Regions from separate parts of the Homo sapiens genome. Here region 1 is linked to region 2. The links come from fine-mapping of genetic effects on gene expression. A gene starts in region 2. The other region holds a variant in brackets. All regions are shown on one strand. Distances are between the middles of the regions.

Region 1 (5,367 bases), 120 kb before region 2:
ATGTACAGGAGGTCCTCCAACACCATTGGTTGTTCAAAGTTATGTAGTTATACTGTTGATGAAAAATAAGTGGTTTCACTATACATAATTTTGCTTCAAGGTGACGTTTCCAAGAGACTTTCAAAGATGTTAAGTGAGGACATACTGTACATCAAATTCATATCCTCTTCCACAGTTCATGTGGAATTTCTTTATAAACTGCTTCTATAGAATCTATTTAGGCAGGTTATGTAGAGAGATCCATGTCGCCATTCTTCAATCTTGGCTTTGAGTCAAATCACCTGGGGAGTTAAAAATGATGAGGCCTGGGTCTCAATACCTGAGATTCTGATTTCCTTGCACCTGTGTGAGTGTGTGGATTTTTTTTTTTTTTCTTTTAAAGCACCAGAGGTGGTTCCAATAATGAAGTTTTTAGAGGCATCAAGCTCCAAAGAGTAAGAGCAGAAATTAATTGTAGTATGATTTCTTCAAATATTATCTTCAAATGCATTGTCCAGCAACACCATACAAATATTTATTATGTTGTTTTTTCTTACCATTTCGCATTTTCTATTTCTTTCCCTTTTTTTTTGAGTCAGAGTTTCACTCTTGTTGCCCAGGCTGGAGTTCAATGGCACGGTCTCGGCTCACTGCAACTTCTGCCTCCCCTATTCAAGCAATTCTCCTGTCTCAGCCTTCCAAGTAGCTGGGATTACAGGCATGCGCTACCATGCCTGGCTATTTTTTTTTTTTTTTTTTTTTTTGTATTGTTAATAGAGACAGTGTTTCTCCATTTTGGTCAGGCTGGTCTTGAACTCCCGACCTCAGGTGATCCGCCCGCTTCCGCCCCCCAAACTGCTGGGATTACAGGCATGCGCGACCGCGCCCAGCCACCACTTAGCATTTACATTTTACATTTGTTGAAGTTCTACATTTATACACACATTGATTGCTGCTTTGTTATACACTTGCATATACATAAGATGGGAAACAGAAAAGAATAAAATGGGCACAGTATCCCTGAAGTTTCACATTCCGAGACATTTTAAAAATATTTGCTCTTCAGAAATTTGTTTCAATGAAGAAACTGTGGTATACACACCCAATGAAGTATTATGCAACCTAAAAAGGAAGAAACTCCTCTCCACTGCAGACAAAATGGATGAGACTGCAGATCTGTACATTAAATGAAAGAAGCCAGGCACAGAATGACAAATATTTCATGTCCTCACTTCTATGTAGGAAGAAAAAAGGAAACCATGGCCAGGTGTGGTGGCTCAGGCCTGTAATCCCAGCACTCTAAGAGGCCGAGTCACACAGATCACTTGAGTCCAGGAGTTCGAGACCCGCCTGGCCAACATGATGAAACCCCGTCTCCACGGTAAACACAAAAAATGAGTCGGGCGTGGTGACCTGTGCCTGTAGTCTCAGCTACTCGGAGGGCTGAGGCCCAAGAAGCGCTTGAACTCAGGAGGCGGAGCTTGCAGTGAGCCCGGACTGTGCCTGTGTACACCAACCTGGGCAACAGAAAGAGACTCCATCACACACCTGCACACAAAAGGAATCTCAAGAAGGTGGAAAGTATAAAGATGGTTAGCAGACGCTAGGAAGAAAAGGGGTGAGATAGGGAATGAAGAAAAGTGGATAATTGAGTCCCAAAATACAGAAAGATGGAATAAGTGAGTTCTAGTGTTTGATAGTACAGTATGAAAATTTTAGTTCACAAGAATTGCTTGCATATTTCCAGATGCTTTGGTAAGAAGCTTCCTAACTTTCTCATTATGCTGGTTTTTAAGCTCTTCTGTTTCTGCTCTTGAAATCATGCTGGTTTTTTGTTTTTTGTTTTGAGATGGAGTTTCACTCTTGTTGCCCAGGCTGGAGTGTCATGGTGCAATCTTGGCTCACCGCAACCTCTGCCTCCTGGGTTCAAGCGATTCTCCTGCCTCCACCTCCCGAGTAGCTGGGATTACAGGCATGCGCCAGCACGCCCAGCTAATGTTGT[A/G]TTTCTGGTAGAGACGGGGGTTTCTCCCTGTCGGTCAGGCTGGTCTTCAACTCCTGACCTCACGTGATCCACCCGCCTCGGCCTCCCAAAGGGCTGGGATTACAGGCGTGAGCGACTGCGGCCGGCCCATGCTGTATCCTTATCTGTTGTCAGTTGTTGTTTGTTTGTTTTGGAGCCCAGAAATAACTTCTCACCTTTATGTTCACATGATTTTTCACGAGTGCTAAGAAAGCTCATTGGTGGAACAGCAGCCTTTTCAAGAAATGGTGTTGGAGAAACTTGATTTCCACATACAGAAGAATGAAGGTGGACCCTATGTCACACCAGGTGCAAAAATTAACAAAAACTGGATCAGAGACCTCACCCCAAGCGCTAAAAGTATGACACGCCTAAAAGAAAACATTGGCCACGCTTTCATGACATCAGATTGGGCAATGTTCTCTGGGATATGACACCAAAAGCATAGGCAACAAAAGAAAATTAGATTCCTTGGATTACATATAAATGACAGACACTTTTGTGCAGCAAAAAACATGGCGAACTGAGTGAAAACATAACCCATGGATTAGGAAATATATTTGCAAAGCATATATCTGAAAAGAGGCTGACAGCCATCATATATAAAGAACAGCTAGAACTAAACAACAAGAAACCCAAAGCATCCCATCAACAATGGTCAGAAGACGCGAGTAGACGTGTCCCTAAAGAAGATATCACAATGGCCAATAAGCATCTAAGGTGATGTTCAAAATCACTCATCATAGGGAAGCACAAATCAAACCAAGAATGTGATACCACAGATTAGGATGGATGTGATAAACAAACAGGCATTGGTGAGACTAGAGAGAAGTAGGAATGCTCGATTCTGATCGGAGGGAATGTAAAACCGTGAAGGAGTGGGGGAAAATAGTATGGCGTGTACTGGAAAAATTAGAAACAGAATGATCAGATGTTCCCGCAGTTGCATTTGTGGGTACCTACCAAAAAGAATTAGAAGCCAGGAGTGGAAGACAGATTTGTGTACACCCATATTCATAGCAGCATTATTCACAACAGCCAAAATGTGGAAGCAACCCAAGGGTTCGTGGACAGATGAATGAAAAAGCACACTGCAGTTCTTTCATACAATGGAAGACCATTCAGCCTTCAAAAGGCAGGCACTTCTGGCCGGTGCGGTGGCTCACGCCTGTAATCGCAGCGTCTTGGAAGACCGAGGTGGGCGGATCACCTGAGGTCAGGAATTCAAGACCAGCCTGGCCATCTTGGTGAAACCCTGTCTCTACTGAAAATGCAAAAAATGAAACGAGCGTGGTGGCGTGTGCCTATAGTCCCAACTACTCAAGAGGCTGAGGCACAAGAATCGCTGGAACCCAGGAGGCGGAGGTTGGAGTGAGCCCCGATTGTGCCACTGCACTCCAGCCTGTGCGACAGAGTGAGACTCCATGAAAACGCAAAGCAAAACAAAATAAAACCAAATGAAAAAAAAAACAACAAAAACAAACAGGCACTTCTGACGCAGGCCGCAACATGGATGAACCTTGAAGACATTATCGTCAGTGAAATAAATAAATCCCAAAAGGATAAACATGCCCAGTCTCAGTGGCTCGCACATGTAACCCCAGCACTTTGGGAGGCTGAGGCAGGCGGATCACTTAAGCTCAGGAGTTCGAGAACAGCCTGGCCAATATGGTGAAAGCTCGTCTCTATTAAAAATACAAAAATTAGCTGGGCGTGATAGCGCACGCCTGTAATCCCAGCTACTCGGGAGGCTGAGACACAAGAATCGCTTGAACCCAGGATGTGGAGATTGCAGTGAGGCGACATCACGCCACTGCACTCCAGCCGGGGTGACAGAGAAAGACTCTGTTTCCAAAACAAAACAATTAAATACAGTATGATTCCATTTATCTATTAAGTGTCTAGAGTAGTTAAACTCATAGAGTTACAAACTAGAAAGGTGGCCCCCAGGGGTGGGCGAGAAAGAGGAGTGGAGAGCTTGGTGAATGGGTGCAATTTCCATTTTGAAAGATAAAACTGTTCTGGAGACGATGACGGTGATGGTTGCTAAACAATGTGAACGTACTTAATGTCATGAAACTGTAAACTGAAAAAGCATGGAAACTGTAAATGTTTATACTGGCCATTCTATATGAAGTAATATATATTTATAATTTTTAATATTTATATGTGGTATATTTTCCCATAATAAAAGATGAAAATTAAAGCAGTTGGATGTTTAAAAAGAAAAGAAAGAAGGGAAGAATACACACTAGCTTTCTCCTGATTAGAGGAAGAGCCCCAAATCTTCTATGGACACTCACTTTTCTCTTCTTCTTCTTGCATTATTATACGGACATCCTTAGAGGTTGGGGAACTTGGGTGACTTTGGCTAAGAAGGAGCTCTGTGCCTTGAGCCCCCCAGGCCACAGAATAGTAAATAGTCAGTCTGTGCCTCCAGCCCTGCAGTGTGGGGTTCCAGTCCTGTGGGCTCCACTCCCGTCACCTGTATCACCCTGTCTTCTTGCCAGCCTTGAAGACGGAGTCTGAGCCTCCATGGTGCACCACACAGGGAGGACAGTGGACCTGTTCTCCGTGGTCATGGCCCAGCAGAGGGGAAGGGCAGTTCAGTGAGTGTAGGGAAAAGAAAGAGATCAGACTCTTACTGTGTCTATGTAGAAAGGAAAGACATAAAAGACTCCATTTGGAGAAAGACCTGAACTTTCAACAATTGCTTTGCTGAGATGTTGTTAATGTGTAGATTTGCCCCAGACACTTTGACCCAACCTGAAGCTCACAAAAACATGTGTTGTATGAAATCAAGGTTTAAGGGATCTAGGGCTGCGCAGGACGTGCCTTGTTAACAAGATGTTTCCAAGCAGTATACTTGGTAAAAGTCATCGCCATTCTCTATTCTCAATAAACCAGGGGCACGATACACTGTGGAAAGCCGCAGGGAGCCCTGCCCTTGAAAGCGGCATATTGTCCAAGTTTTCTCCCCATGTGATAGTCTGAAAAGTGGCCTCGTGGGAGGAGAAAGACCTGACCGTCGCCGAGCCCGACACCCGTAAAGGGTCTGTGCTGAGGTGGATTAGTCAAAGAGGAAAGCCTCTTGCAGTTGAGAGAGAGGAAGGCCCCTGTCTCCTGCCTGCCCCTGGGAAATGAATGTCTCGGTATAAAACCCGATTGTACATTTGTTCAATTCTGAGATGGGGGAAAAACCGCCCTATGGTGGGAGGCGAGACAAGTTTGCAGCAATGCTGCCTTGTTATTCTTTACTCCACTGAGATGTTTGGGTGGAGAGAAACCTAAATCTGGCTGATGTGCATGTCCAATCATAGTACCTTCCCTTGAACTTCATTATGACATAGATTCTATTGCTCACATCT
Region 2 (5,367 bases):
GATGGGTGGGATGAGGCCTGAGAGAGCCCAGCACACCACACTCCTGGGCAGCCTGGGCCTGGATTCCATGGCTTGACCCTGCCCCCTTCACAAACAGTTCACAACAGGAGCTGGCGGAGGCAAGCTGCAGCCGGGCTCATGCACCAAGACTGGTCACCGTTTAAGCAGCCAGCATTTAGCGAGGACCTCAGGCATTACCTGCTTAGTTTGCTCTCTCTGAAATACCTCTAGCTGCTCCACCTGTACATGGGGGAGGAGCAACAGAGACAGAGTGAGATGAGGCCAAAGAAGCACCAGCCCTGCTGCCAGGCTGACCTCACTGAGGCTCTGATACTTTCCCCTAAGGAGCTAGATTGACAGTAAGTTTAAAAATGCCAGTTAGGCTGATTCTAATCCCCAGTGGCTCCTGAGGCATCCAGTGCAGGTGTGCCTCTGAACAGGCTGGTGGTCATCACAACTTGACTCTCTAGTGACAGAGCCTTCAGGGGAGGGGAGGCCACTGACATTTTCTTTAGGATGACAGGGGCAACAGACTTGAACTCCACCAGCCACCTCTCCTTTTCTGCCACCCAGTGAATGAGGAAAGGCAAGACACTCCAGTGTAGGAGCTAGAGGCCCTGGACACAGAGGATCGATGTCCCCGCGCTCTCAGCTCCTGATCTTTGGGAGGGTGGTTGGGCTGAGTACCTTACCTGGGCAGTGAGTTTCTGCCTCTCTTCCTGGAACCGCTGCCTCTCCTCCAGGACCTTGACCTTGGCACCCTCATACTTGGCAGTCATCACCTCCAGCTCCCGGGCAGTGCTCTGTGCTTCTCGCTGCACCTCAGCCAGACGGGTCTCAGCATCAGCACGTACGGCTGCCAACTCTTGGACATACTTCTCCCGGGCCTGGTCCAACTCCACTTCCAGAAACTGCCGGCCAAGGTTGGCCCGCTCACCCAGCCCCCGGTTCTCCTCTGCCAGCAGGCCATGCGCCTTCTTCAGCATGCTCAGCTGCTCTGCATAGCTGGCCTTCTCTGCCCGCAGCTGCTGAGCTGTTCGCTCCTGCTCTGCCACCTTCTGCCGCAGAGGAATCAGCTCCCCAAGCTCCCGCTGGGCCCGCAGCAGCTCTGCCCGCAGTCCCCCAGCGGCCTGCTTGCTCTGCTCCAGCTCCTCACGGTGGCGTTTCTCGGCAGCGGCCTGCTCGGCCTGCAGCTGCTGGCAGAGGTGCTTAGCTGGCAGCAGCTCACTCACCAGGGCCTGTGTGCTGGTGTGCTCGAGCTGCAGGGTGGAGAGGGCCTGCTCTTTCTGGAAGAACTTCTCCTGCCACGCCTTCAATTCTTGGCCCAGCTCCTCCGCACGCTCAGCCTGTGAGGTCAGCTCCTGCCGCAGGTTCTCTGAAGCCACCCGCTGTTTCTCAGCCTCCTCCCGGAGGCTCTGCACCTCCTCCCGCAGAGCAGAGCTGCGTTCTGCAGCTCTGGCACTGTTGCTGGCTGTCTCTGCCTGCAGCAGGCGCAGCCTCTCCTCCAGCTTCTGGCTCTTCTCTGACTCGGCCATCACCAGCCGCTTCAACTCCTTGCTCTCCCCCTCCTTCTCCAGGACCTGGCGATTCAGGATGGACACCTCCTCCTCCAAGCTGCTGATGAGGCTATTTTTCCTCTCAGCCTCTTGCCGGCCCCGGGCCACCTGGGCCTTCCACTCATCTTCAGCCTTGCTGTGGTCTTGTACCTTGGTGCGGAAGGCAGCCAACTCCCGTTGGGCCGAGGCTAAGGCACTCTGACTGTGCCCTAGCTCCTGGGCCTTCTCCTCTAACTGGCCCTGCAGAGTCTCCAGAGCACTGTCCCGCTCAGCCCGGGAGGCCCGCTCAGCCTCGAGGCTGCGTTCCAGGCTGTCAGCCTGCTCCTGCTGCTTCTGGCATTGCTGTTCCAGCTTGCTCACCTCTGCCCGCAGTGCCTCCAGCTTGGGGCCTGTTGGCTCTGTCCTGCCAGCAGCCTCAGATTGGGCTCCTGAGCCAGATGCGTGCTCCTTTTCTTTCTTAGCCAGCTGTTCCTTCAGTTGCTTCACGGTTTGCCGAAGTTCCTCCAGCTCTTTTATCTGGGCTGCCTCCAGACCACGAAGCTTGGCCAACTCCTGGTCCTTGCCTTCCTTTTCCGTCAGGGCATGAGCCAGTGCCTCTTGCAGGGTAGCGAACTCCACACGCTGCTCGTTGAGGGCGTTCTGCAGCCGCATCTCAAGCTCTGCTCTGGCCGCCTTCTCCAGGGCAAGGTCAGCCTGGGCACGGCCCCGCTCCTGGGTCAGCCGCGCCACCTCCCTTTCCTGCTGCCCACGCTCCTCCTGCTGCTGCCCCTGGCTCTCCATCAGCGCGGCCCGCAGCCGTTCCAGCTCATTGCCCATCTGCTCTGCCTCCCGCTCCATAGCCTGCAGCGCTGCCTGTGTGCTGCAGAACTGGCGTCCCTGTTGCTCTTCCAGCCACTCGGGCTGTCTGTCTCCTGCCCTCGCAGGCTCCTTGACTAACTCCCGGGAGGCTGTTTCCTGCTGCTCACCTGCCTTGCGCACCAAGGTCTCCAAGCGGGCCACCTCTTTGCTGGTGGCAGCCATCTTTTCCTGCAGAGTGGAGAGGTCATCTGCAAGCTTCTGGGCCCTGACTTCCTTCTCTTGGACCTGCTGGAGTGCTCTGGCCAGGTTGGCATGGAGCTCAGCTAGTTCGTTCTGCTGCCGGCTTATCTGGAGCTCGCTGTGGGATTCTATGCCTGCCACCTTCTCCTTTGCCTCCTGCAGCTCCTGGCGGGCCTTCTCACATTCCTCCTTCAAAGTCATCAGCTGTTCCTGGAACATGGCGCCATACTGTGCCTCCTCTTGCTGGCTATCCTCATACCGCTCACGCCAGGCAGCTACTTCTTTGACGAGCTGCTCACACTCACTCTCAGCTGTGTGCTGGGCAGCCATGGCCTCTGCCAGCTCCCGCCGCAGGACTTCAGTCTCAGCCTGATGGGCCTCCCCAAGCTGCTGTAATCGAGCCTCCAGCCCCTTGCGCCCAGCCCTCTCTTCTTCCAGCTCCTTTCGTTCCCGCTTATGCTGCTCCACCAGGCTTCGGGTCTCTGCCTTCAGCTCAGAGATACAACGCTGCTGCTCTTCCAGGGCATCTGCAGCCCTGCGCTTCTCCTCTTCAAGGCTGCCCTTGGTGACCTTCAAGGACTCTTTGAGGGCCTGGAGCTGCTCCTGGAGCTGGTCCTTCTCCTGGGCCACCCTTTCTTTCTCAGTTGCTTTTTGCTGCTCAGACCGCAGCTGCAACTCTAGCTCTGCAACCTGGGCCTGGGCCTCATGCTGTTCCTGGCGGGCTGTCTCAACACAGGCCTGGAGTTCCTCCACCTTCCGGCTCAGCTCTGCCTTCTCCCGCTGGGCCTGTGTCACTGAGGTCTGGGCACTGTCCCGGGCTTCATTAGCCACCTGAAGTTGCTGCTGCAGAATCTCCAGCTTGGCAGCCTTCTCCTTCTCCAGTGCCTCCAGCTGCTTGAGAGCCGCATCCCGCTCCCTTAAGGAGGCCTCTCGCTCCTCTGCAGCAGTGGCCAGTTGCTGGGCATGGTCCTGCCTAGTTGCCTCCTGCTTCTCCGCTACCTCCTTCAACTGCTGCTCCTTCTGCTTCAGGCTACTGCTTAGCTGCTCCACCTGGTGGCGGAGGCCCTGGGAGGCCTGTTCTTGCTGTTGGAGGGTCTGTGCTAGCTGGGCCTGCTTCTCTTTGGCCTGCTGCTTCAGGCCAGCCAGTTCTTGATCCTGTTGCTGGATGGTGGCATTGAGTGTGGTGAGCTCAGAGGTCAGAGAGGCCACCTGGGCAGTCAACCGGGCCCCATGAGCCTGGGAGGCCTGCTCCAGCTCTTCCTTGGCCTGGCTGAGGTTGGAGATGGAGCTCTGCAGGTCAGTGATCAGGCTAGACAGCTGCTGCTTTTCTTCTTCGAAGTGGCCCCGCTCAGCAAGCAGCTTGGCTTCCTGCTGGCCTCGCTCAGTCTCCAGCATCTCTACCCTGGCTTGGAGCTGTGTGTTGTTTGCAGCAAGAGTGGCTGCCTCTTGCTTCAAGGTTTCCAGCTGGTGGTATAAAGAGACAAACTGGGATCAGCATGACTCCTCAGTCATCAAGACTCCTCTGGAAATGGAGGAACACCAGGAACCCAAATGTACTGAATGTGAGTCCACACCAACCAGCAGCACACAGGTCTTTCTGTGCATTCCTACCTGCAAGACATCACCCAGCACCTCGCCCTTCTCCTGGGGTGGGTTATCCTGCAGCTGGGACAAGTGTTCTTCCAGCTGTGAAAGTTTTCCCTGAAGGATTTCGTTCTTCTCTTCAAGGCATTTCTGGGAGTAAATGAGACCCATGTGAACAGAGAGGGGGAACAGGCACCAGATTACCACACAAGCCCTCATAAACATCAGCAAACATGGGGCCCATCATCTTGTTACCAAGATCTCCTTTTGCCCTGGCCTAGAAAAAAGCAGAAACCATGGAACTGGGAGCATGAGGGACCTGATTCTCTAGACCTAGTTCTAAGGCACAATAAAGTCATAATGTAACCTGCTTACTACTTCCCCAAGGCTGCTGAGTTTACTTCAAATTTCCTTACCGTATACCCTTCCTCAGATAAGTCTTGAGTCCTAGATTATCCAAATCACCACCAGCTGCCCACCATCCTCTGGGCAGCAATACCACTGGCAGCAGCTGCAGCAACCCCCAGTCCCAAACCCACTTCTTCACCACTGTTCACTAAGCACCTACAATAGGCTATGCTGGGTTCATCCCTAATTTTTTTTTTTTTTTTTTTTTTTTTGAGACAGAGTCTCGCTCTATCGCCTAGGCTGGAGTGCAGTGGCGAGATCTTGGCTTACTGCAACCTCCACCTCCCAGATTCGAGAGCTTCTTCTGTCTCAGCCTCCCGAGTAGCTGGGACTACAGGCATGCATCACCACACCCAGCTTATGTGGGAGGCAGCTACTACCATTCCTCTTACAGAGCAAGAACCTGAAGCAGATGCTAAGTGCCTTGATCAAGGGCTACATGGTTATTAGTAAGTGGCCAAATTGGGTTCTTACCAATAGTAACAATCACAACTGGTTCACTGAGAGCTTACTTTACACTACACGATGTGTGAAGTGCTTTACATACGTTTTCTCATAATAGGTGATGAGGCAGCTACTCGTTACTACTCCCATTTTAGGGAAAGGATGCTTAGAAAAACAGACTGATTAACTTGTCCAAGATCCACATCTTGTGAACAGCAGAGATAGGATTGAAAGGTGTACTATAAAGTGAGGGCATTGACTGGGGAAAAAAAAAATAAGTTAAAAAAAAAAGGTGTACTAGACTGAAGCCCACAATCTTTCAATTACAGCACACTAT

The links. PIP is the estimated chance that this variant, and not a neighbour inherited with it, causes the effect. A credible set is the group of variants that fine-mapping cannot tell apart.
Region 1: its variant is the best candidate, but not a certain one, in a credible set for the expression of NUMA1-AS1 in whole blood (INTERVAL, PIP 0.64).

Annotation. Positions count from the first base shown.
Region 1 is chr11:71,894,756-71,900,122 of GRCh38, forward strand. All of the region lies in intron 5 of XNDC1N (XRCC1 N-terminal domain containing 1, N-terminal like), which reads right to left. The region is part of intron 6 of XNDC1N-ZNF705EP-ALG1L9P (XNDC1N-ZNF705EP-ALG1L9P readthrough); the gene reads right to left. Among named protein-coding and RNA genes, the nearest start is that of DEFB131B, 19 kb to the left of the region's middle. The variant A/G (reference allele first, on the strand shown) is at 1,982.
Region 2 is chr11:72,012,203-72,017,569 of GRCh38, forward strand. It overlaps NUMA1-AS1 (NUMA1 antisense RNA 1), which reads left to right and starts at 2,089. Exons shown (of 4, transcript NR_104178.2): 1 at 2,089-4,685; 2 at 5,157-5,367. NUMA1 (nuclear mitotic apparatus protein 1) reads right to left here. Exons shown (of 27, transcript NM_006185.4): 14 at 4,206-4,328; 15 at 693-4,058; 16 at 199-240. RefSeq lists an enhancer at 2,743-3,490.